3 separate regions of the Homo sapiens genome follow, and regions 1 and 3 are each linked to region 2. Evidence: fine-mapped expression QTL. A gene starts in region 2. Each other region holds a variant in brackets. All regions are shown on one strand. Distances are from middle to middle.

What was found.
Region 1: its variant is fine-mapped to the expression of KATNIP in whole blood (TOPMed, PIP above 0.99).
Region 3: its variant is fine-mapped to the expression of KATNIP in whole blood (TOPMed, PIP above 0.99).

What each region holds. Positions count from the first base shown.
Region 1 is chr16:27,769,663-27,777,841 of GRCh38, forward strand. KATNIP (katanin interacting protein) reads left to right here. Exons shown (of 28, transcript NM_015202.5): 21 at 199-356; 22 at 1,926-1,990; 23 at 3,437-3,547; 24 at 5,283-5,422; 25 at 7,266-7,367; 26 at 7,948-8,108. Among named protein-coding and RNA genes, the nearest start is that of KATNIP, 220 kb to the left of the region's middle. RefSeq lists enhancers at 1-974, 1,811-2,576, 4,813-5,313. The variant GA/G (reference allele first, on the strand shown) is at 3,392.
Region 2 is chr16:27,546,410-27,554,570 of GRCh38, forward strand. KATNIP (katanin interacting protein) reads left to right here and starts at 3,735. Exons shown (of 28, transcript NM_015202.5): 1 at 3,735-3,768. The coding sequence starts at 3,762. GTF3C1 (general transcription factor IIIC subunit 1) reads right to left here and starts at 3,504. Exons shown (of 37, transcript NM_001520.4): 1 at 3,261-3,504. The coding sequence starts at 3,481. RefSeq lists enhancers at 3,401-3,480, 3,491-3,600.
Region 3 is chr16:27,652,103-27,660,281 of GRCh38, forward strand. All of the region lies in intron 6 of KATNIP (katanin interacting protein), which reads left to right. Among named protein-coding and RNA genes, the nearest start is that of KATNIP, 110 kb to the left of the region's middle. The variant G/A (reference allele first, on the strand shown) is at 3,952.

The DNA.
Region 1 (8,179 bases), 220 kb after region 2:
GGGCTCGCCTGTCTTGTCCTCTGCTACCTGCCCAGCGCCCACACAGCACCTGATATGGGAAATGGACCTCGGTCAGGTGGCTCTGCGAAAGGCTCCCCATGGTGAGCACAGCTGCCAGCAGCTCCGGTCACGTCAGCACCGCTTCTGTCCCCACATGGCCTGCCTCCCTTCAGTCATGTTATTTCTTTTGTTTGCCAGGCCAAGATTGTCCACGTCTCCCTGGATGGCCTGTGCGTCTCCCCGCCAGAGGGCTTTCTCATCCGGAAGGGGCCAGGCAACTGCCACTTTGATTTTGCTCAAGAAATCCTCTTCGTGGACTACCTACGGGCTCAGCTGCTGCCCCAGCCGGCCAGGAGGTGAGGAGAAAGTGGGCGCCACACACAGCCCCTCCCGGCCCCTGGGCCCGCTTGCTTTGCAAGTTGCTCTGATGTACATTCCGAAAGGGTTTTGAAACGATGATCAAACGCATTGCTTTTCAACTTAGTCATTTTCTAAAGCTCAGCCAAGCCTCACCGGAAGCCTGTGGAATGGACTTACCTTGTCTGGGGACATTTGGGTTTTTCACAGTCTGGAGTGCTGAAGATTTTAAATGCTTCATTGCGTTTCCTGCTGAGAAAAGAGGCTACAGCCTGCCTCCATTCCAGAAATGCCTGCCGGCCAGTTTGGGGAAGGGCCTTCCTTCTCCCGTTTCTGTGTTCCTGATTTAGAAAGATTCAAGGAGAAAAATAGAGCTTAATATTTCATGGATTCACTGGGATTTCTCGGCCCCAGTCTCAGCTGCATTAAGTTCATAACGATTTGTAAATGCCACGTTAAGTTTACTCATTGAAACCCCCTGATGTCCAAACGCCAGAGGCCAAGCTCTTGAAACAAAATGAGTTTCCCTGCACTGTAGCGGGGTTGGCTGGCTGGGCTGGTCACTAGGAAGTCATTTAATTGTAACATTGCCCTTGAAATGGAAGAGAACCAGGCTAGGGCTGGAGGGCACTGACAGCGGACCAGGGAGAGGGGCCCCGTCAGGAGGGCCGTGGAGGAGAGGATCCTTCCCGAGGGCCAGCTGTGTGAACACTTTGATGTGTCCTTTGGGAAATCCTTCCAGCCACCCTTTGACCTAGCCAGTATGATGCCCGTTTTACAGATGTGGGAACTGAGGCTCTGGCTGGTGGAGCCAGGTGCTGAAGATCATGAAGCCAAAGCCATCAGGGCTGTGCCTGCCTTCCAGCCTCCTCTCACTTCCCTCTCCCCATCCTGCCCCAGACTCCAGCCCTCTGGCCGCTTTCTGGGGCAAACACCAGCAGCCCAGTGACTTCCCACCTTGGGCCTTTGCTCTGCTGCTCCTCTGCGTGGAAGGTTCAGCTCTGGCACTTCCCAAGGCTGCCTCCTCCTGGAGGCCTTCCCAGAGCACTCCCTGAGGCAGCCTGCCCCACCCAGTCCCTCTGCCCTGTCACCCCGTCCTGGCTGTCGGCACAGCGTGGACCCTCCTTGTGTTTAAAGACATAGAGGGGGTTGGTTAAGAAAGGGGGCAGTGGTACCAGGCAACCTCACGTCCCATCCCGGTTCTGCCACTACCAGCTGCATGGCCTTGAGCAAGTGACCTCACTTCTCCGTGTTCCAGTTTCCTCATCCACATCCCAAGCATCTAAAAATACCCACCTCCTAGGGTTGTGTTGAGGAATAAAAGAGTCCATTTCAGGAAAGCCCTGAGCCCCGTGCCTCCCTGGCACAGCATCCTGCCAGCATTGGCAATGACTGTCATCTAGAGCGGGAACTCCACACGAGCAGGGGCCTCATCTCTCTTTTCCCTGCTGCATCCTAGGGAACGCTAAACTGCCATGTTTCTTCAAAGGCTGTTACCTAGGGGGTAACTGGCTGGTGATTCTGGGCCGTCGTGAGCTTCTTCATGGTGCTGTTTTGTGCTTTTTCAGGCTGGACATGAGAAGCCTGGAGTGTGCAAGCATGGACTACGAGGCACCGCTGATGCCCTGTGGCTGTATCCTTCTCCTCCCGCCCCACCAGCACATTCTGGGCCCCGAGGCAGCGCCTGGGCCGCAACTGCCCAGCCAGGGTTTCAGGCGGCCACAGATGAGGCAGCTGGAACTCCATGCAAGGAAACCAAGGCAGAGGATAGGAGGCCTCCTGGGTCCTCAGGGCCACTAGGAGCTGCTGGAACTGGGGCAGCCAGGCTAGTTCCTGCTGAGGCTGGAGGGGGCAGCACCCAGGACTCCAGCTGGGAGGGGCTAGAGAAGCTGGCACTGACCCCAGTGGCTGGACTGGGGAAGGGGGGTGTCCTGGAACCAGCCAGGGAGGAGGTGAAGATAGAAATAACTTGGCAATCCAGGCACAATAGCTCACACCTGTAATCCCAGCGCTTTAGGAGACCAAGGAGGTTGGATTGCTTGGGGCCAGGAGTTTGAGACTAGCCTGGGCAACATAATGAGACTCCATATCTTAAAAAAAAATAAATAAATTAGCTGGTGGTACATGCCCATAGTCCAAGCTACTTGGAGGCTGAGGTGGGAGGACCTTTTGAGCCCAGGAGTTCGAGGCTGCAGTGAGCTCTGATTGCACCACTGTACTTTAGCCCAGGCAGCAGAGCCCAGCACTCTGGTACTACTATCATTCCCATTTCACAGCTAGGAAAACTGAGGCACAGAGAGGCTCAGTAATTTGCCCAAGGCTGCACAGGTGGGAAGGGGTAGGGCCCAGGGGAGGTGAACCCAGGCAGCCTGGCTCTAAGGCCCGCTCTCTAGCCAGCCAGTTCTGGAAGCACTGTCTCTGGCTATGCCATCATCTGAGAGCCACCCGGCCTGCTCCTGGGAGTGCGGGGAGTGAGCAGAGCACAGGGCTGAGGAAAGGCTTGATGCCCAGCTCTGCACGTGGGACTTCAGCAGCAATGGTGGTCTCCTTGCCCCGGCCCATGGCCCCTGGCGCTGTGAGGTTTATGTGTCCCCTTCTTAGCCTCCTGTTTACTTGAAAGGGATGGAGGAGGTTGCAGGTACTCTGTTCTTGTCATTTCACAACCAGGGAAACTGGAGCATTTTGTTCAATACCATACAATCAGTTTGTGACACAGATGTTTCCCCATCCTGCCTGCTCCCTGGAGAGCACCCTCTCCTCCCGTCCTGTCTCCTGGGGCCTAGAGGAAGGCTTTGAATTCCTAATACACACACACACGGGCACACGCACACGTGCACACATGCATGCATACACACACATGAACACTCACATGCACACACACACACACATGCACACACATGCAATTTAAGAAAATGTGATGCTACCTATATTTTGATAGGCTCTAGTTGCAATAAGAGAAAAATGTTTTTCTCTCATTCATCAACATAAACCCAAAACAATTCCTCTTATCTTTGCCATTGTTTTACTATATTCT[GA/G]AAAAAAAAAATTAAGCCTTCTTTTCCTTAATAAAGTGTCCCAGTCATTTTCCAGTTTCAGCTTCTCACCAGCTGGGGCGACCCCTACTACATCGGCCTCACCGGCCTGGAGCTGTATGACGAGCGAGGAGAAAAAATCCCCTTGTCGGAAAACAGTATCCTTTGTAGGACAGGAGTGGGCTCCACCCAGACTGAAGGGAGCATGGGAGGGTCGGGAACGGGGCAGAAGCCTTGTGTGCAGAGGGAAATGGCCCTCTAGGAACCAGAGCCCAGGGGGCTTTGCTTATAGTCAGATGCTGACCCTTGGGGACGGGCAGCAGAGAGCAGCTCCCAGCCCTGCCTGCTAAGACATCAGGAGCAGGAATTCCACAAACCAGAGTCCTGTGGTCCAGTGAATTGAGAGAGGCTGCCAACTATAGCGCCCCCTTCTCGGAGAACCACAGATACTTTGGAGTTCCAAAGGCTCTGACAAGGTCTGCAGGGAGAAGCCTGTTGCACTGTGTTCAACTCAGTGTGTCCTGAATTTCTTAAGTATGGAACCCTTTGTGCATAGTATGCCCACACCAGAATTTGCAGACTGTTAGCCCAGTGCATTTTAAAATGAGTTGCTAATATTTTTAGAAATCACGAGGTTTCACATGAAAACCCTGATCTCTGGTTTCCCCTGAGAAATTGGCAACACAGGCCCTTGATTATGCATAGTGACAATGGCTGGACCTGGTTATCTGTTGCCATTTCTCCCCAAGCATATCCTTCTGGTCTACCTTAGCCCCCCACTCCTCCCATTGTTATCTACCAGGCCCCGAAACTCACTGCTAATATTTTCTCAGGGCTCACTCTGTGCTACCTCATCTGCCCTCACAACAATCTTGTGAGGTGATTGCTGCTGTTATCCCCATTTTACAGATGAGGAGCCTGAGACACAGAGAGATTGAGTAACTTGCCTAATGTCACACAGCCAGTGAGTGTCCAGACACCAGCTCTTGACCAAGCAGTAGGCTATCCTGCCTCTTTCATGTAACCTGCCTGGCCCCCTCGGATCTTGAATCTGTGATCCCTGGCCCACCACAGTTAGGGAAATACCAGGGCAAGTCGAACCCCAAAGCCTGCCTTGCATCTGTTTGGGGTCCCTGGCTTCCAGTTGGATCCTTTTCTGCCTTCCCCTGGTGCCACCACCCTCCTCAGCTGGGATGAATGATTCTTGATGTTTTAGATCATTATTAGCGACTCCTCGAAGCTATAAAGTTTCATTGATTTTACCAAAGTGCTCACATCTGGTGCACTCTGAGATCCTCACATCCATCCTGGGAGCTGGAGGTTTTTATACCCATTTTACAGATGGGAAAACAGGCCCAGGGTTGACCTGTGACTTGCCCACGCCCTCACAGGTCATAATGGCAGAGGCAGAGCTAGAAGCTGGGTTCTGCAGATCACATTAGCTGGGTCCAGCTGCTCCGAGGTCCTTCCACACTGACCAGGAAGAGAGGCTCGGCATGATACTCACATGCCAGGGTAGAATCCAGCCACCGCCCCATTCCCTTCCAAAAGAAAACCTCCGCAGAGCTTGCCCTCCACCCTCTCAAGCAGCAGCAACATTTTACGTCCCCAGCTCTGGCAGTTCCCTGCAACGTCTCTTTTTCAGCTGGCCTTCTGTGTGGTTTCCTTCTCTCTCTACTTGAAACTGACCACCTCTCCAGACACACCTGCTCCCCTTGGGCCCGGCACTCCCCGTTTCCCCAGGACACGTCCAATTCAGCTGTCACTGCTGCGGCTGCCCAAAGCATCAGCCCTGCCAGCCCCAGAGTCCCCCGAGCCACGCCATCAGCCTGAGGGTGGCTGGCAGCCCCGAGCACACAGATTTGGGTTATGGCAACTTAGACGTCTCCTCAGATATTGCGGCCTTCCCCGACAGCGTGAACTCCCTGGAGGGTGTGGGCGGGGACGTCCGCACCCCAGACAAGCTCATCGACCAAGTGAACGACACCAGTGATGGCCGGCACATGTGGCTGGCTCCCATCCTGCCGGGCCTGGTGGGTTCCCGGCAGCGGCCACCGCAGCTCCTGGCCCTCAGGCGGGCAGGGGGACTTTCTTTCCCTGGTCTCAGTGACACGTCTTTCTTCCAGGTCAAGTTAATCTCAAGCCAAGATGCTTGGGAGCTGTCAGAAAGGTTTAGGTCTTTGCTAACTTGCCTGATGGGGTCAGCTCTTCCAGGCCAGCAGTTCTTTCTCTTTTATAAGTGGACACCTGGGGCGAAAGGGGTCCCATGGGAATCTGAAGCCAGGAACCCCAGCACAACTGCCTGAGGGCTTGGGCGTCCTGGGTCCCTGCAGGCAGCCCTCTCTGGTTCTCTGCTCTGCCTGGCTTTGCAGCCACTGTGCCCTCTTCCTCCCCACCCAGCTCTCCGCACACTCACGGTTTCTGCCCCTTCCTACATCACCAGGTAGATGACCCCAGTACGGCCGCCCTGCCCTCCTTCTGGCCCTAAATTGGCCTGGTCAGCTCTTCCGACCAACTGACTCAGTTTCCCAGATCTCAAATCTTGCACTGGGTCCTGCTTAGCTTTTAGCTCTGAGGCCTCATGGTGAGAAGACGTGGTTGGTTGTGGTGGAGAGGAAGGGGAGAGGGCATGGACGGGGTGGTCAGCCCCCCTGCAGCCTCTCAGCCCAGGGCCAGGTGCCTGGTAGAGATGCACAGCGGGTTCTTGGCAGCCATATGACTAGGGATGTGTCCCTTGTCCATGCCATGGGACTGAGTGGGGGATCGGGGGCACCTTTTTCTCTGAAAACACAGGAAGGTACAGCATCAGCAATTCTATGACGGAAGTTTTCCAAAGGCCACCCTAAAATTAGACCCCCCCTATTGAGCGTCCTCAGCTTCCCCTGCCCCATTGCAGAGGGGGCAACAGAGCTCTGTCCTCCCTGAGACTCAGGCCACCCACTGACGGCCAGCGGGTATTTTCCATTGTCTAGCACTGGAAGGCCTTTTGGGGTGCGGCGACTTCAGCTGTTGCTCTCGCGGCTGGACTCCAACATCTGTATCTGCTTGAGCCTCACAGGCAACTGAGTTTGGAGACCCTCACCCTGACCTTTATTGTTTCCATGGTCCAGCCAGGAGGCTGGCCCTACCCGAGCAGCCGCACTCCCTCTTGGCATATTCTGAGGATGGTCACAGGCTGGGGACCAGGGCCTGGGGCAGGACTGAGCCTGCAGTCTGTGGCCAGTGTGGAATGCTTATTTCTTGATTCTGTCTTGCAAGGGAGGGCCTCCCCTAATATCTGAGAGCTTTGGTTGGGGGTGGGGAGAGGGAGGGCTGTTTGAGGCTGCTCCGTCCCACTTTTCCCACTGGATTCTGCCCCGATCTAGACAGCCCCCTTTTTACTCCCCCAGCGGAGGTTCACAGACACGCCCTGGACATTGTCCAGCAGCACCTTGGCGTTGCTTCTCAGTGATGGTTTGGGGAAAGGACAGACAGGGTCAGATGCTGATCACCATGGCTGGTGCTCAACCCGAGTTGGGGACTGTCCCTTTAGCTCATGGGGCTCTAGACTATTTCTGGGCCTGACCTGAGGGGACGTGGGGGAGGGCCGAGGATGTTCCCAATCCTCCACTGGCATTTAAATGAGGGCTCCGACAGGCCCAAGAACACAGGCCCTCCAAAAGCCAGCTCAGCGGTTTGTTGCAAATGCAGCCACACGTGACCTGACTCAAGATGGGCTTCGAGGAGATGAAAGGGGGCGGAACTCCAGGCTGGCCCACGTGGCAGGCGCTGCCTTGGGCACCACCGCTCACCCCAGCCCACGCCTGGCACCCCCAGCCCAGCCAAGCGCCTCTGTTTCCAAACATGCCTGTTTTAATTAGTGCCGCTCTCTGACAGGTGAACCGGGTTTATGTGATTTTCGATCTGCCTACCACCGTGTCAATGATCAAACTGTGGAATTATGCGAAAACACCCCATCGAGGGGTGAAGGAGTTTGGCGTAAGTACTTATTAGCTGAGTTTTTTGAGATAATTATGCTCGTTGGTAATTAGGCCGCCGGCAATTATCATTTGTCGCAGTTTGATTTACTTCTCTCTGTTGCAACCCTCAACACAAATGCCTGGTCGTCAGATGCAGGCGAATTTCCCACCCAACCATGAATTCAGAACCTGCTGGCAGTGATTTCAGTGTCACCCTGAGCAAATAGAAAGTGGGTTTTCTTTCGTCTTTTCCTCTAGAATCCCACTGGTTTGGGGCGGTGACCCTGGGATGGGGAAAACAGGGACCCTGGATACCAGAGACCCAAGTTTGCCTCCAGCTCTGCCACTTGTGCTAATGGTATTAAAGCCCCTCGGGCCTCAATTTCCTCATCTGCAATGCATGCTGATAGCTCCTGCCTTTCCCAATGGTTGTGAAGATCTGAAATCACAAGGCAGACACAGCACACAGTAGGCGCTTGTTCCTGACAGCCCCGTCTTCCCGAGGAGAAAGCCTTGGCTCAGAGCAGTAACGCGTTCTGCCCAAGGTCAACGTGGGAGGGACGAGGGGGACCCATGAGTCCTGCCCCGTGTCCCTGCAGCTCCTGGTGGACGACCTGCTTGTGTACAATGGGATCCTGGCCATGGTGAGCCACCTGGTGGGGGGCATCCTGCCCACATGTGAGCCCACCGTGCCCTACCACACCATCCTCTTCACCGAGGACAGGGACATCCGCCACCAGGAGAAACACACCACCATCAGGTAGGGCCCCAGCCGGCCCCATGGCCTCCCCACCAGCCCTAAGGAGGATGGATGGCTGGGACACACGGCCA
Region 2 (8,161 bases):
TACAACACCATGGAGACATTTTTCATTTGTGCTTCTTTCATGCAGTTAGCCAAGCTTGTCAAGTTTTTTTTTTTTTGAAAAAAAAAAAAAATACATACATATATATATATATAATTTTTTTTCCCCTCACTATGTTGCCCAGATTGGTCTTGAACTACCGGGCTCAAGTAATCTGCCCACTTCAGCCTTGCAAAGTGCTAGGATTACAGGTGTGAGCCACCTTGCCTGGCTGCTTGTCGAGTTTTATTTTGAAATCTCACTCATATCCTACACTAGTCTAATTGCGGCTAAATCCTATGTACATGTTTCAGCCCTTTCCTTCCTTGCCCCCTCTGTGTTATCTGCACCATTTAACCCTCCATTCCTTTTTTTTAAGACTTGAGTTTTGATCTTGTCACCCAGGCTGGAGTGCAGTGGCGCAATCTCGGCTCACTGCAACCTCTACCTTCTGGGTTCAAGCGATTCTCCTGCCTCAGCCTCCCTAGTAGCTGGGATCACAGGCACCTGCCACCACACCCAGCTAATTTTTGTATTTTTAGTAGAGAGAGGGTTTCACGATGTTGGCCAAATGATCCACCTGCCTCGGCCTCCCAAAGTGCTGGGATTACAGGCATGATTCACCACACCCAGCCCAACCCTCCGTTCTTAAATGATCCTGTCTCCTCCCAAACTTCCAGAACACCACTCTGACCTGACTGTCCTCTACCTCTCCAGCCACACCGCCTCAGTCTTCTTTTGAAAGTCCCTCACCCTCCATCCAGCCTTGAAATGTAGGTGCACTGCAGAGCTATATCTCAAGACCTCCAACCACACTACACTCTCTCTTAGGGCTGATCTTAGCCAGCTGCTTTAATTACCAGCTGCTAGGAATGACTCACAGATGTCTAGCTCAGTCCCTCCCTCTGGCCTGCTTTCACTCCCACGAAGCCAGATGTTTACTAATTAAGACTCTTCACTTGGACAACTCAAAAGAACCTGAAGCTAAATGTGTCACATGTCTCTTCAGCAAAGTCCCCACCTCCCCCAGACTCAACCCCCACGCTGTTCTTCCGTGTTCCCAGCCTCAGAGATGAGAATCAGGGTTCGCTCAGGTGCCCAAACAGCAGCCTACTATGTCTTGACTGCCTGTGCTCTTCATCCCCACGCCCACCATGGTAAGCCAGACCATGACTAGATTACTAAAAATCTCTCAACTTCACTCTTTGCCCCTAGTCTGACCCTCTCTTCAGTGACTTCTCACTGTCCTTTTGATAAAGGATAAGCTTTTTTTTTGAGATGGATTCTCCCTCTGTCACCCAGGCTGGAGTGCAGTGGCACAATCTCGGCTCACTGCAGCCTCCACCTAGCTGGGATTTCAGGCGTCTACCACCACGCCCAGCTAATTTTTGTATTTTTAGTAGACATGGGGTTTCACCATGTTGGCTGGACTGGTCTTGAACTCCTGACCTCAAGTTATCCGCCCACCTCTGCCTCTCAAAGTGCTGGGATTACAGGCTGATAAACTCTTTAAGTAGGTTAAAAGACTTGATTCCAGTCCAATTTGGCTGGAATCTGAACTCAGACCTTCCTCAAAGTCTGGGTTCTTCCCTTGCTAGTTGACTTTTAGCATGCCACTTGACCCCTCAGGGCCTCGATTTTCTCTTCAGGAAAATGGGGAGAATATTACCCATCTCCTAAGGTTTCTGTAAAAATTAAATAACATGTTGTATTAAGGATCTTAGCACAGTCCTAGCTATTCCTCATTCCCTACCTCCAATTCCACACTTCAGCCACTTACTTCACATTTGCTGTTCTCTGTCCAACAGTCCTCTTTGCCAACTGGCTGCCTAAATCCAACCTTTAAGTTTTGTCTCGAACATTATTTTATTTTATTTTTGAGACAGAGTCTCACTCTGTCACCCAGGCTGGAGTGCAATGGCTGAATCTCAGCTCACTGAAACCTCTGTCTCCCAGGTTCAAGTGATTCTCCTGCCTCAGCCTCCTGAGTAGCTGGGATACAGGCATGCGCCACCACGCCAGGCTAATTTTTGTATTTTTAGTAGAGATAGGGTTTCACCACGTTGGTCAGGCGGGTCTTGAACTGCCGACCTTGTGACCCATCCACCTCAGCCTCCCAAAGTACTGGGATTGCAGGCATGAGCTGCTGCACCCGGCCTGTCTTGGACATTATTACCTCTTGGAACCTCCCCTGACCCTCACAATATGGCTTAAGAGCACAGACGCTGAAAATAGCCTGGGTTCAAATCAATTCTTAGTCACTTATTGCCCCCAGAACCTTAGGTTACATAATCCCTCTCTGTGACTCAGTGTCTTCCTCTGTAAAATGAGGACGATAACAGCACCTACCTCATAGGTGAGGATCAAGTGAATTTAATCTCCTGTTTAACGGAGTTTAATCAAGTGAGGATCAAGTGAGTTTAAGCTCCTAAAGCTTCTAGAATAGATTCTTAGAACAGCAATGTGGCCGGGCGCCGTGGCTCACGCCTGTAATCACAGCACTTTGGGAGGCCGAGAGGTGCGGATTGTCTGAGGTCAGGAGTTCGCGACCAGCCTGGCCAACATGATGACACCCCATACCTACTAAAAATGCAAAAATTAGCCGGGCGTGGTGGAACATGCCTGTAATCCCAGTTACTCAGGAGGCTGAGGCACGAGAATCGCTTGAACCTGGGAGGCGGACGGAGGTTGCAGTGAGCCAAGATCGCGCCACTGCACTCCAGCCTGGGCCACAGAGAGAGACTCTATCTCAAAAAAGAAAAAAAAGAACAGCACCTCACCCATGAAGTCCCTGATAAATGTCAGCTTTTAGCATTATCGCTAATTGTCCTGATACGCAGATCTCGAGTTGCCCTAGGCTATCTGCACCGAATGAATATACCATGAGGGTCTGTTGATCTCAGGAGTCTCCAGTCTGGCTCTAAAGTGTCTTTCCTGCTCTAATCCTATCCTCCAATGTAAAGGAAACATTCTTTTAAGCCTGAAGAATATCCCCAATCCTGTTCGCCATTACCCCAAAACACACACAGGGACAAAACGGGACATCACTAGATTCTCCCCCTCCCCCCGCCAACTCCATCGGACTCCAGGGCCCTGCCAGGCCTGAGGGACCCCAGATTAGCCTTACCGCCGTGCCCCAACTCAATCAACAGGCCTCCGGTACTTGCACAGCCCCACTCCATTCCCCCGCCCTGCCCCCAGCTCCATCAGCCCCCGGGCCCTGCGCCCGCCCGCCCGCCCGCCAGGCCAGGCCGCCCGCTGACCGGTCCTGGAGCTGTAGGTCGGGTCGCTCCCGAGGCTCCTCATAGAAGCTGATGCCCGGGTGCGTGGCGAGGGCCCGCCAGAGAAACTCCTGCGTGCAGGGTTCCAAAGGCAGCGGGAAGGGCGGCACTCGCGTCTCCAGCCGGCTCCACAGCGCTGGCAGACACAGGCCATCGAGCCCCTCCAGAGCGACTTCGTCCAACAACGACTCCAGCGCGTCCATTGCTACTTCAGTCGGCGGCGCCCGGGGCGCATGCGCAACGCACCGCCAAGGGCCTTGGTCCATCGCGCCTGCGCACAACGATCCGGGGCCCGGGGAGGTGGGTCAGACCCAGGGTTCGGAGGAGGAGTTCCAGCGCGCCGGCATGACGTCACTCCCCGGGGGCGGGCTCAGTAAGTGGAGCTCCACCGTCATTGGTCCGGGGCCCCGCAGTAACCAGGGGAACTGCAAACAGTGTAGAGGCCGCTTCCGGTTCGAGCTCCCGGAACCGCCGCCTCTAGGGATGGACGGTGAGTGTCTGTGGGCCCCTCCGGGAGGTCGGGCTGTTATTCTCCCATCCCTCCCGACCGCGCTTTGGGCAGAATCCTAGGCCATGAACCCCTGGACCACCACTTCCTGACCCAAGGGGGTCTCCGAAATGAGGGATAGGGAGGCTTAGTGGTCTGGAACGCGGAGGAGAGCCTGGGGGAGTGGTCAGTGCTGTGACCATTCTGCTCGGCTGTGGTCGTGAAGGAAACCGGTACTGGCCGGGAGCTCAGTGAAGGGATGTAGGGTGGGGAAGGAGAAGTAGAGGTCTGAGGAGGGTCTTGTGAATGTTGGGATGTGGAACTGTCGGATTTGGGAGTTGATATGAAAACAAGCTTGATCGTGGGAGTGCAATCGTCAGGTGCTGGGAAAGGGAATTGGTGTGGGGGGTGAAGGGAGTTTAGGAAATACTCCCTTTCTGTGCCTTGGCGTTAATAATAATAGCTCCCTTTAACAAAGTGCTTTCCAGTACCAAGAACTCTGTAAGTACTCTTGGGCAACACCTCGCTAAGCTTCATACCAGCCTTTTGAGTTCAGCGTTGTTCCATTTTACAGATGATGAAACTGAGGCTCAGAGGTGTTAAGGAACTTGCCCAAAGTCAAACAACCAGCATGTAGCAGAGTGAGTGAGAAACCCAGACACCCTGTCTCTGGAGCTGAATTATGGAGCTTGAGATTTGGACCGGTTTTGAGGGTCCCTTTATTCCAGAGGTTGTAAATGCAGATGTCTGCAGAGGAGAGTCTAGTGAGCCGGATTGAGGCTGTAACTGAAAATCAATTCCTCACCTGAAAGGAAAGCTGCTCACCAAGCACCAGCTGATTGTCCTCTTGGGGTACTTCTCAAAAACAGGGTTGGCCAGTCACTCTGAAGGCCAGAGACAGCTTGTGGGCCCCCATTTAGGGATCCCTGATTAGAGTCATGGTATTGACAATTGGAAGCAAATGGAAAATAGGCTATTCTGATATCTCACTTTGCAGATGGGAAGACTAAAGTCTAGAGAGACTGGTAGGGTCTGGGCTAGAGTCCAGATCATTTTTCTAATTACAGCACTGTCCCTCACTTCTCGGGAATTTGTTCCTGGGGAATCCACATTCTTTTTATATTCACTGAATGTAGTGTGGAGAAAATGTTTTTAATTGAACATTCTGTCATATGCTTAAAATATATCTTTTCCCTTTGTACTTTAGAGGTACTATAAAATGTGCTTTACCATTTTGCCTTCTGGAAAGGTCAATGTAATGTTGCTATAGAACATCAGTCCTCAAACCTTTTAAGCCTTGGGACCCCTGTATGCTCTTACCTCAAAGAGCTTTGTTTATTTATATTTATGATATTTACCATATCGAAGATTTAAACTGGGAAAATCTTAAGATGTCCATTAATTAGTTCCTTTAAAAATAATAAAAATTGGGCCGGGCATGGACTCGTGCCTGTAATCCTAGCACTCTGGAAGGCCAAGGCAGGTGGATCACTTGAGGTCAGGAGTTCGAGACCAGCCTGGCCAACATGGTGAAACCTTGTCTCTACTAAAACTTAGCCGGACGTGGTGACACATGTCTGTAATCCCAGCTACTTGGAAGGCTGAGGCAGGAGAATCATTTGAAGCCGAGATCTTGCCACTGCACTCCAGCCTGGGCAACAGGGCGAGACTCTGTCTCAAAAAAACCCAATAATAATAATAATAATTGGCCAGGTGCAGTGGCTCATAATAATCATAATAATAATTGGCCATGTGCAGTGCCTCACACCTGTGATCCCAGCAGTTTGGGAGGCTGAAGTGGGTGGATTGCTTGAGCTCAGGAGTTCAAGACCAGCCTGGGCAACATAGCTAGACCCTGTCTCAAAAAAACTCCAACAACAATAAACCCATTACTTCTGAACATAAATAATATTTTTAATGGAAAACAATTACATTTGCCTCCAAAAAATTAATAGGAAGAGTAGCATTATTTTATGTTTTTTCAAGTTTATTCAATAGAAATAGAAAAAACTACTCTCATTTCTGCTTCAGGATTCAAACTGTTTTTTGTTATGCTGTTTTGGCTGGTGTGTATGAAGAAAATTTGGCCTCATACAAATATATAATTGGAGCAGAGAGAAACATTTTAATTGCCTTTTCAGATAACTGTAGACACTCTCCTTTCATACTATACAAAATTTAGCAAATGCCAGTTTCTTTTTTCTTTTTTTTTTTTTTTTTGAGAAAAAGTCTCACTGTCGCCCAGGCTGGAGTGCAGTGGCACGATCTCAGCTCACTGCAACCTCTGCCTGCTGGGTTCAAGCGATTCTCCTGCCTCAACCTCCCGAGTAGCTGGGATCACAGGTGTGAACCACCATGCCCAGCTAATTTTTTTTATTTTTAGTAGACATGGGGTTTCCCCATGTTGGCCAGCTGGTCGCAAACTCCTGACCTCAGGTGATCAGCCTGCCTCCATTTCCCAAAGTGCTGGGATTACAGACGTGAGCCACCATGCCTGGCCTGCAAGTGGCAGTTTTTTTTTTTTTTTTTTTTTTTTGAGACGGGAGTTTTGCCGTCGTTGCCCAGGCTGGAGTGCAATGGCCTGATCTCGGCTCACCGCAACCTCCGCCTCCCGGGTTCAAGCGATTCTCCTGCCTCAGCCTCCCAAGTAGCTGGGATTACAGGCATGTGCCACCACGCTCAGCTAATTTTGTACTTTTAGTAGAGATGGGGTTTCTCTATGTTGGTCAGGCTGGTCTCAAACTGCCAACCTCAGGTGATCCGCCCGCCTTGGCCTCCCAAAGTGCTGGGATTACAGGCATGAAGAACCATGCCAGGCCACAAGTGGCAGTTTCTTAAATGTTAGTCACAGTGTGTCATCTGAAGCCTTATAGGTGAACTTTTATACTGTGTTACATTAAAATCCATTGGTCTATCTTGCCCTTTCATTGGCTGCTTTACCCATATATGGTTTTATAACATCAGCCATTGGTCGTTTAGAAAATGTTGGTTCAGTGAGTTATGCAAATCTAAACGTTGACCTTTCAGATGCCATTATACGGTATTTAAAAAATCACATTTGTTAATATCACCACCTATTTCATTTTAAAAAGGAGTTTAAGTATTAGGAAACTATCAAACTCAAGGTAATGGAAACAAGTTTTCAACTTGTTTTCACTTGACAGCTTGAATTTTAACATTGGCAGCAAATATTGTCAGCTGTTTCCTTGAAGTGACAGACTCACTTATTTCATATTTGAGAAAATTTCTGCCAAATTCCCAAGACTGAATAACCAAAATTTGTCTATTATTTTATTTACTGCCATGTACTCACATTTAAAACAAACAAACAATTATTTTTATTTAAGAATGTCCTGATGGTTGGGTTCAGTGGCTCACGCCTATAGTCCCACCGCTTTGGGAGGCCAAGACAAGAGGATCTCTTCAGCCCAGAAATTCAAGACCAGCTTCGTCAACATAGTGAGACTCCATCTCTACTAAATAAATAAATAAAATAAATAAATAAATAAATAATAGTCAGGCATGGTAGCATGCACCTGTGGTTCTAGCTGCTAAGGAGACTGAGGTGTGGGGATCACTTGAGCCCAGGAGGTCAAGACCAGCCTGGGCAACTTAGTGAGACCCCATCTCTGTAAAAAGTAAAAAATTAGACAGGTATAGTGGCTCGTGCCTGTAGTCCCAGCCACTCAGGATCAGTTGAGCTTAGGAGGTTGAGGCTACAGTGAGCCATGACTGTGCCACTGCACTCCAGCCTGGGCAAAAAGACCTTGTCTAGAGAGAGAGAGAGCAGGGGGTGGGGTGGGGGGAGAGAGGAGAGAGAAAGGAAGGAAGGAAAGAAGGGAGGGAGAGGAGAGAGAAAGGAAGGAGGAAAGAAGGGAGGGATGGAAGAAGGGAGGGAGGAAGGAAGGAGGGAAGGTTTCTAGTACATTGTGGTAACATTGCCTTGATTCAGACTGCAAGCAGTTTTACCCACCATTGCTTTGTGTCATAAGTACAAATGTCAACACAGCCAGATGGGGTGGCTCACGCCTGTAATCCCAGCACTTTGAGAGGCCAAGGTGGGCGATCACCTGAGGTCGGGAGTTTGAGACTAGCCTGGCCAACATGGTGAAACCCTGTCTCTACTAAAAATACAAAAATTAGCTGGGCATGGTGGCACATAACTGTGGTCCCAGCTACTTGGGGGAGGCTGAGGCAAGAGAATCGCTTGAACCCAGGAGGCAGAGGTTGCAGTGAGCCAAGATCATGCCACTGTATTGCAGCCTGGGCAACAGAGTGAGACTGTCTCAAAAGAAAAAAAATTCAACACAGTGAAATACTCTTCAAATTATGATTAAAATACTTTTGTCTTTGTGGACCCCTCCTTCTCCCAGGATCTGCACCTTTGAGAAACATT
Region 3 (8,179 bases), 110 kb after region 2:
ACCACCATCCTGGGTACCATTCCGGACACTGAGGATAAGGCAGAAGAGAAACAAGTATATAATGTGTCAGGAGACAACAGGGCTGATAAGAAAAATAAAATAGGAAGGGGATAGAGAAAAATGGCCAGGGGCTGCTATTTTATATGGAGGGTGCAGGGGCTTCCCCTTGATGAGGTGATACTTAAGTAGAGGAGAGGTCAGAGAAGCAGCCATGGGTCAGATTGCATGGGGCTTGAGGGCAGAAATAAAGATACGGGATTCTCCTTAAGTTTGAGGGGAAACCATCATACCTGTTTTACATCTCTGGTGAAAGGAAGACACCGCTTTCCAGAGAGTTCTGCCAAAGTGGCAAGTCTTAGTTATGTTGGCTTTCCTGGGCACATGGTTGTATGCTGCAATGGATGATATGTTCACCGTTTAAGTGGTATTGTCTCTTGCTGGGCGCTGTGGCTCACATCTGTAATACCAGCACTTTGGGAGGTGAAGGGTCGCTTAAGATCAGGGGTTCGAGACCAGCCTGACCAACATGGTGAAACCCCATCTCTACTAAAAATATAAAAATTAGCCAGGTGTAGTGGCACACACCTGTAATCCCAGCTACTCAGGAGGCCGAGGCAGGAGAATCACTTGAACCTAGGAGGCAGAAGTTACAGGAGCCGAGATGGAGCCACTGTACTGCAGGGGCAGAGTGAAACTCCATCTCAAAAAAAAAAAAAAAAATTATATTGTCTCTGTTGATGTATCAGGAATGAAACAAAGTTTACGTTTTAAAAAATTATGATACTTATTTTCCTGATAATGCATAATTGATATAAAAAATTCAAATGACAAGGCTACCATAAGCGATGATTATGCCACTGCACTCCAGCCTGGGTGACAGAGCAAGACCCTGTCTCTAAAAGAAAAAAAACAAAAAATCAAATGATACAAAGAAAACAAAAGTCCTTTCATAATCCCACTGCCCCAGAGATAATTATTGTGAGTAGATGGGTAGATAACCATCCGGACTAAAAATGGCATATTTCATTATATCCAAGAAGAGATCATTGATCCAGAATATCCTGGACCTGTCTCGTTCCCAGTGAGTGGTATCTCCCAAGTTTAGTTACCTCTGAAGTCCCTGAGAGCGTGATACGTGACAGGAAGACAGGGCCACCCTGAAGTCTTCTGGAATGCCTTCTGAGTGTTCTTTCCATTGGGTGGATGGTGGCATGGGGTGAGTCTGGTTTTTTCTCACAGTAACAGTTCAGTGTCTTAAAGTGGTTATTGCTGACATTTATAAACGACTAAAGACCACCATCCTTGGCCAGCCCACCCCAACCCTGCCCCCAGCCAGACTCTGCAGCACATCCCTTCAGTCTTCCTTCATTCGTTCCAGTGATGAGACTTAGGGCAGTTTCAATGCGTGGGGTTTACCACAGCAGGAACTTAGGGCAGTTCCTGCTGTTTGGGGTTACCATATAAATGACCTCTGAGTGGGTGCCTTTTTAACATTTTTAATGGTTATTTTCACATAAATGGGATTATACCATCCATGCTATTTGATTTTCCCACTTTTTTTTTTTTTTCTTTTTGAGACAAAGTCTCGCTCTGCCACCCAGGCTGGAGTGCAGTAGCACAATCACAGCTCATTGCAACCTCTACCTCCCAGGATAAAGCAGTCATCCTGCGTCAGCCTCCCGAAGAGCTGAGACAACAGGAACTCACCACCACATCCAGCTAATTGTTGGGGAGTTTTTTGGTAGAGATAGGGTCTCATATCCCACTATGTTGCCCTGGCTGGTCTTGAACTCCTGGGCTCAAGCAATCCTCCTGCCTCAGCCTCCCAAATTTCCAGATATTACAAGGCTAAGCCACCATGGCCAGCCCCATTTACTTATTTATTTATTTAAAGACGGAGTCTTGCTCTGTCACCCTGGCTGGAGTGCAGTGGTGAGATCTTGGCTCACTGCAACCTCTGCCTCCTGGGTTCAAGCAGTTCTTCTGCCTCAGCCTGTCATGTAGCTGGGACTACAGGCACGTGCCAACACACCTGGCTAATTTTTGAATTTTTAGTAGAGATGGGATTTCACCATGTTGGCCAGGCTAGTCTCGAACTCCTGACCTCAGGTGATCTGCCCGCCTCAGCCTCCCAAAGTGCTAGGATTACAGATGTGAGCCACTGTGCCTGGCCTCCCATTTTTTAAAAAAACTCAACAACATACCTTGGCCATCTTTCTACACTGGTACTCACTCAACTGCCATACAGCTCCATGGTTCAGAGCACTGTTTTAGGAGTTGGTGGCCTGAGTTTGGATCCTGGTCCATTGACTGGCTGTGTGCCAGCAATGGTGTTGATGTAGCAGGGATGAGAGTGATCAGATCCACTTTAGGAGCAAGAGCAGAGGGTGATTTAATGAGGAGAAGATGGGAGGCAGGGAGACCAACAGAAGAGCGAGGCCCCAGCATGTCTTCAGGGACAGGAAGTTGTTTTTACCATGCCCAGTTTTCTGTGCTTGTCCCTAGGATACCAAATCTCCCACCAGTACCAAGCCCTGTGGTTTTAACTTCTCCCTTCTGAATGCATGTGGACATTCTGACCCTTCAAGCAGCGTGGACAAAGAAAGGATCCTCTTAACTATTCAGGATGTGATGGTAAGATCAGTTTTCAGCATCCTAACCCCTAAGGGCTGGGGATCTTTTCCGTAGCCAAGCAGCTGTGCCTGCCTTAAGATGGACTCCGTGAGAGAGTCTAGGAAAACCACAGGGCGGGCACGGTGGCTTATACCTGTAATCCCAGCACTTTGGGAGGCTGAGGCAGGAGGATGGCTTGAGCTCAGGAGTTAGAGACCAGCCTGGGAAACAGCAAGACCTTGTCTCAACTAAAAATTTTTAAAATGTGCAGGGTGTGGTGGCATGTGCCTGCAGTCCCAGGTACTTGAGAAACTGAGGCCGGAGGATCACTTGAGTCCAGGAATTCAAGGTTGCAGTGAGCTATGATTGTGCTACTGCATGTCTGCCTGGATGACAAAGAGAGAAGCTGTCTCAAAACAAATATACAAACAAAAACCGCTGGGCTGCTACCCCCTAGAATGGATATATATATATATATATATATATATATATATATATATATATATATATATATTTTGTTTGTTTGTTTGTTTAAAGAGATGGAGTCTTGCTCTGTCTCCCAGGCTAGAATACAGTGGTGCAATCATGGCTCACTGCGGCTTTGAACTCCTGGGCTCTAGTGATCCTCCCACCTCAGCCTCCCAAGTAGCTGGGGTTACAGGTACGCACCACCATGTCCAGCCAATTATTTATTTATTTATTTATTTATTTATTTTTGAGAGACAAGGTCTTGCTTTATTGCCCAGGCTGGTCTCAAACTCCTGGCTCAAGTGATCCTCCTGCCTCAACCTCCCAAAGTGCTGGGATTACAGGCATGAGCCGCTGCGCCTGGCCAGAAGATGTAAAACAATTCACAAGAGATTTGACTTAATGATGTTACATTTAAATAATAAGAGCTCACGTTAAATGAGCACTTACCGAGTGCCAAGCACCATGTTGAGCATGTAACATCCATCACGACGTTAACCCTGTGAGTTAAGTTCTAGGGATTTTCATTCCCATGTTATGGTTTGAGGAAACTGAGGAATAAAGAAATAATGTTGCTCACCCAGGCCTCAGGGAAGCCCCTGCTGGAAGCCCAGGCTCATGACTCCTTGTTCCTTACAATTCACAGTCACAGGCGGGGAATATTGCACTCATCTGGTTTTGCTCAGAATGTGCCACAGTCTGTTGTGAATATTATTGATGTTATACCCAGGAGCAAGGTATTCAGAGGTGACCATCCATCAGTTATGCTTAATAATGTTTTAAACAATGATAGAGAGAACTCTCCTTAGCCAAATATCTCCTCAGTGAATCCATGACTGAAAATGTGGATGAAAAATGTTTTTCAAAAGC[G/A]AAATCCAGTGAGGAAACAGCCAGACAAACCCAAATTGAGGGGGATACTCTAAAAACAACTGGCCTGGAGTCTTCAGAAATGTCAGTGGCAGCCAGGTGCGGTAGCTGATACCTATCATCCCAGCCCTTTGGGAGGCCGAGGTGGTAGGAATGCTTGAAGCCAGGAGTTCCAGACCAGCCTGGGCAACATAGGGAGACTCCATCTCTACAAAAAATTAGTTGGGTGTGGTGGTGCATGCCTGTAGTCCCAGCTACTTGGGAGGCTGAGGTGGGAGGATCACTTGAGCCCAGGAGGTTGAGGCTGCAGTGAGCTGTGATCATGGCACTACACTCCAGCCTAGGCAACAGAGTGAGACTCTGTCTCAGAAAAAAAAAAAAAAAAAAAAAGGAAGAAAAAAAAGTCAGTAGCATGAGAGACAAAGGGCACTGTTTCAGATTAAAGGAGAGTAAAGAAATAACACAATAGCAAAGACTTGGAACCAACCCAAATGTCCAACAACGATAGACTGGATTAAGAAAATGTGGCACATATACACCATGGAATACTATGCAGCCATAAAAAATGATGAGTTCATGTCCTTTGTAGGGACATGGATGAAATTGGAAATCATCATTCTCAGTAAACTATCGCAAGAACAAAAAACCAAACACCGCATATTCTCACTCATAGGTGGGAATTGAACAATGAGATCACATGGACACAGGAAGGGGAATATCACACTCTGGGGACTGTGGTGGGGAGGGGAGGGGGGAGGGATAGCATTGGGAGATATACCTAATGCTAGATGACGAGCTAGTGGGTGCAGCGCACCAGCATGGCACATGTATACATATGTAACTAACCTGCACAATGTGCACATGTACCCTAAAACTTAAAGTATAAAAAAAAAAAAATCCTAAAAAAAAACACAATAAAGGCAGTGTGATGAGATCCTAGGGGTGTGAGGGAGAGGAATTGCTACATAAAAGGAGAATTTTGGAAAATGAATGAAATTTGAGATGAACTATATTATATTAGATAATATTGTATTGATGTTAAATTTTCTGAGTTTGATAGTTACATTGTGGCCATGTAAGAGAATGTCCTTGTTCTCTGGAGACACATGCTGAAGTGTGCAGGCATGAGGGGCTGTGCATAAATGGGTCAGGATCAAGAATATGTGTGTACATATTGAGAAGGAAAAAGTGGGAGGGGAGAGAAGGAGAGAAATGTGGCAAAATGTTAACAACTGGTGAATATACGTGAAGGGTATTTGGGTGTTCATTATACTAGCATGATACGTTTTCTGTAGGTTTTACATTTTTTCAAAATAGAAAAAGCTAGCACATTAAAGAGGAGAGGAGCTGCTCCAGTAGAACTAAGCATCACCAAAAGAAGAAATAGAGAAAAATGGCCGGGCACAGTGGCTAACACCTATAATCCTAGCATTTTGGGAGGACGAGGCGGGTGGATCACCAAGGTCAGGAGTTCAAGACCAGCCTGGCCAACATGGCAAAATCCCATCTCTACTAAAGAAAGCATACCTAGTTAAAAAACAAAAAACAAAACAAAACAAAACAAACAAAAAAAAAACAAGGCCAGACGCAGTGGCTTATGTCTGTAATCCCAGCACTTTGGGAGGCCGAGGTGGGTGGATCACGAGGTCAAGAGTTCAAGACCAGTCTGGCCAACACGGTGAAACCCCGTCTCTACTAAAAATACAAAAATTAGCTGGGCGTGGTGGTGTGCACCTGTAATCCCAGCTACTTGGGAGGCTGAGGCAGGAGAATTGCTTGATCCCGGGAGTCGGAGGTTGCAGTGAGCCGAGATCATGCCACGGCACTCCAGCCTGGATGACAGAGCAAGACTCCATCTTGGGAAAAACAAAAACAAAAACAGCATAGTAGGATTGTATCAATGTAGTTTCCCAATTGTGATGTTATGCTGTAGTTATACAAGGTATTACCATTGGGGGAAACTGGGTGAAGGGTACATGGGCTCTCTCTTTATTTTTCCTTACAAATGGCATGGGAAATCTATAATTAGCTCAACATAAAGAGTAAAAATTAAATAAAAACACAAATACCCAGGTCTTACCACTCAGAGGATCTGATTCTGGGTTTGCACTCAGCCATTGTTCCCTTTTTTAACGTCCTTATGTGACTATAATTTGTCGCAATGTTTGAGAACCATAGTTATAAGGAAAAGATAAAGCTGCAGTTCTCAAAGTTGGATATGCATAAGAATCGCTTAGGATATTTGTTTAAGACGCATTTTTTAGGTCTGAACTTTTAAGCTAATAGAATTTGTAGATAGGAGGTAGCACATTTTTAGCAAAAGAACTCCCAGTGATTCTGAACCAGAGACCTGAAGATTAGAGCACACTTCCAATGGAAGGAGCATCTTTTAAGTTACTTTGGACTTTTTGGCTTAGATTTGAGGACTGTAAAAAAGGGATATTTTAAAAAATCAAAATTAAAAGCTTTTCTACATTGTACAAAGTTAAGATGACCAACCAGTTAAAAAGCAACAAAAATACAGAGTTTCACCAAGGTCAGAAAGGTACAGGATGGAAGGTGGGGTCTGCCCTTCTCTTTGGAACCATATTCTGCACTTCTGGAAACCTGGAGGGGAGACGATGTCCCTTAAAAAAATAACAGATGGAAGTACAGAAGCAGATAGCCCCTAAAAATATCTCCTGTACTATAGGTCAATTTGTTTTTTGTTGTTGTTGTTGTTTGTTTGTTTTTTCAGAGTCTGACTCAGCTGCCCAGGCTGGAGTGCAGTGGCATGATCTCAGCTCACTGTGACCTCTGCCTTCCGGGTTCAAGCAGTTCTCATCCCTCAGCTTCCTGAGTAGCTGGGATTACAGATGTGTGCTAGCATGCCCAGCTAATTTTTTTTTTTTTTCCCAGTAGAGACGGGGTTTCACCATGTTGGCCAGGCTAGTCTCAAACTTCTAACCTCAAGTGATACACCTGCCTTGGTCTCCCAAAGTGCTGGGATTACAGGCGTGAGCCACCATGCCTGGCCTGTAGGTCAATTTGTATCCAAAATATTGACCATTAATATCAAAAAAAGACTGAATTATGTTCAGCATAGTCTTTTAAGAAGACAAGGAAGTATTCATATATTTTCAAAATATTTACATACAGAATAATTTGTTTAGGTTTTTTACTATTTAAATGGGTAAATTTGGCTGGGCTCAGTGACTCATGCCTGTAATCCTGGTGCTTGGGAGGCCGAGGCAGGAGGATCACTTGAGGCCAGAAGTTGCAGATTAACCTAGGCAACATAGTGAGAATTCATCTCTATAAAAAATTAAAATTAGCTGGGCATGCTAATCTGCACCTCTAGTCCCAGCTGCTCGGGAGGCTGAGGTGGGAAGATTGCATGACACCAGGAGTTTGAGGCTCCCCTAAGCCATGATCGCACCACTACCCTCCAGCCTGGGGGACAGAGCAAGACCCTGTCTATACAAAAAAAAAAAAAAGTGAATTTTAGATAAATAGAAAATTAATTTTGCATTGTTATTATATTAAGACAGTACTATGTTATGAAAATAAATATGTACCCATCCTATTTGGTTTTTCTAAGTTTGGTTACATTTTAAAATGTGGCTCAAACTTGAGAAAAAACAATGCAGAGAAAATAGAGGCATGTAGGAGAGGCTTTCTGATTAGGTATGACTTGAAAAAATATGCTAAAATGCAGGATAAGGATAGAAATACACTGAGGAATGGGAGGGAGTGTGGCCAAACTGAGGGCTCAGATTCGTGACTAGAAGGGCCAGCTTCAGCTCACAGATGTGTTCTGTTGGCCGGTTTGGTGGCACGCCATGGTTATCATTGTTGCTGTTTGACTTGGACTTAGAAAACTTTTCTTCTGAGCATGCACCCCCAGTTTGGCCTGGTCCCCACTACCTATTGTACAACACTGTGGTTTATTTGATAGTTTATATAACATTACGCCTCCTGAGGATGTCGGAGTTTGCGAGTCTTGTTTTAGGGAGGAGAAATACCAAGTGACAGATTCCGCAAGCCTGGGAAGGTAGCTTGGGTTTTTCCATAAACATTCTGGGGCCTTGGCTAAGTCATACTCCTCTGGGGCCCCCATTTCCTCCTTTAACAAGAAGCGGTGAATTAAATATCTCCTGCACCTGCCAGCTCTGAAATCGTAAATCCTAGGTATGGTTTATAAGAAAATCTTATTCCCATATTACAAAATCCGTGGATTGGCCGGCAGTGG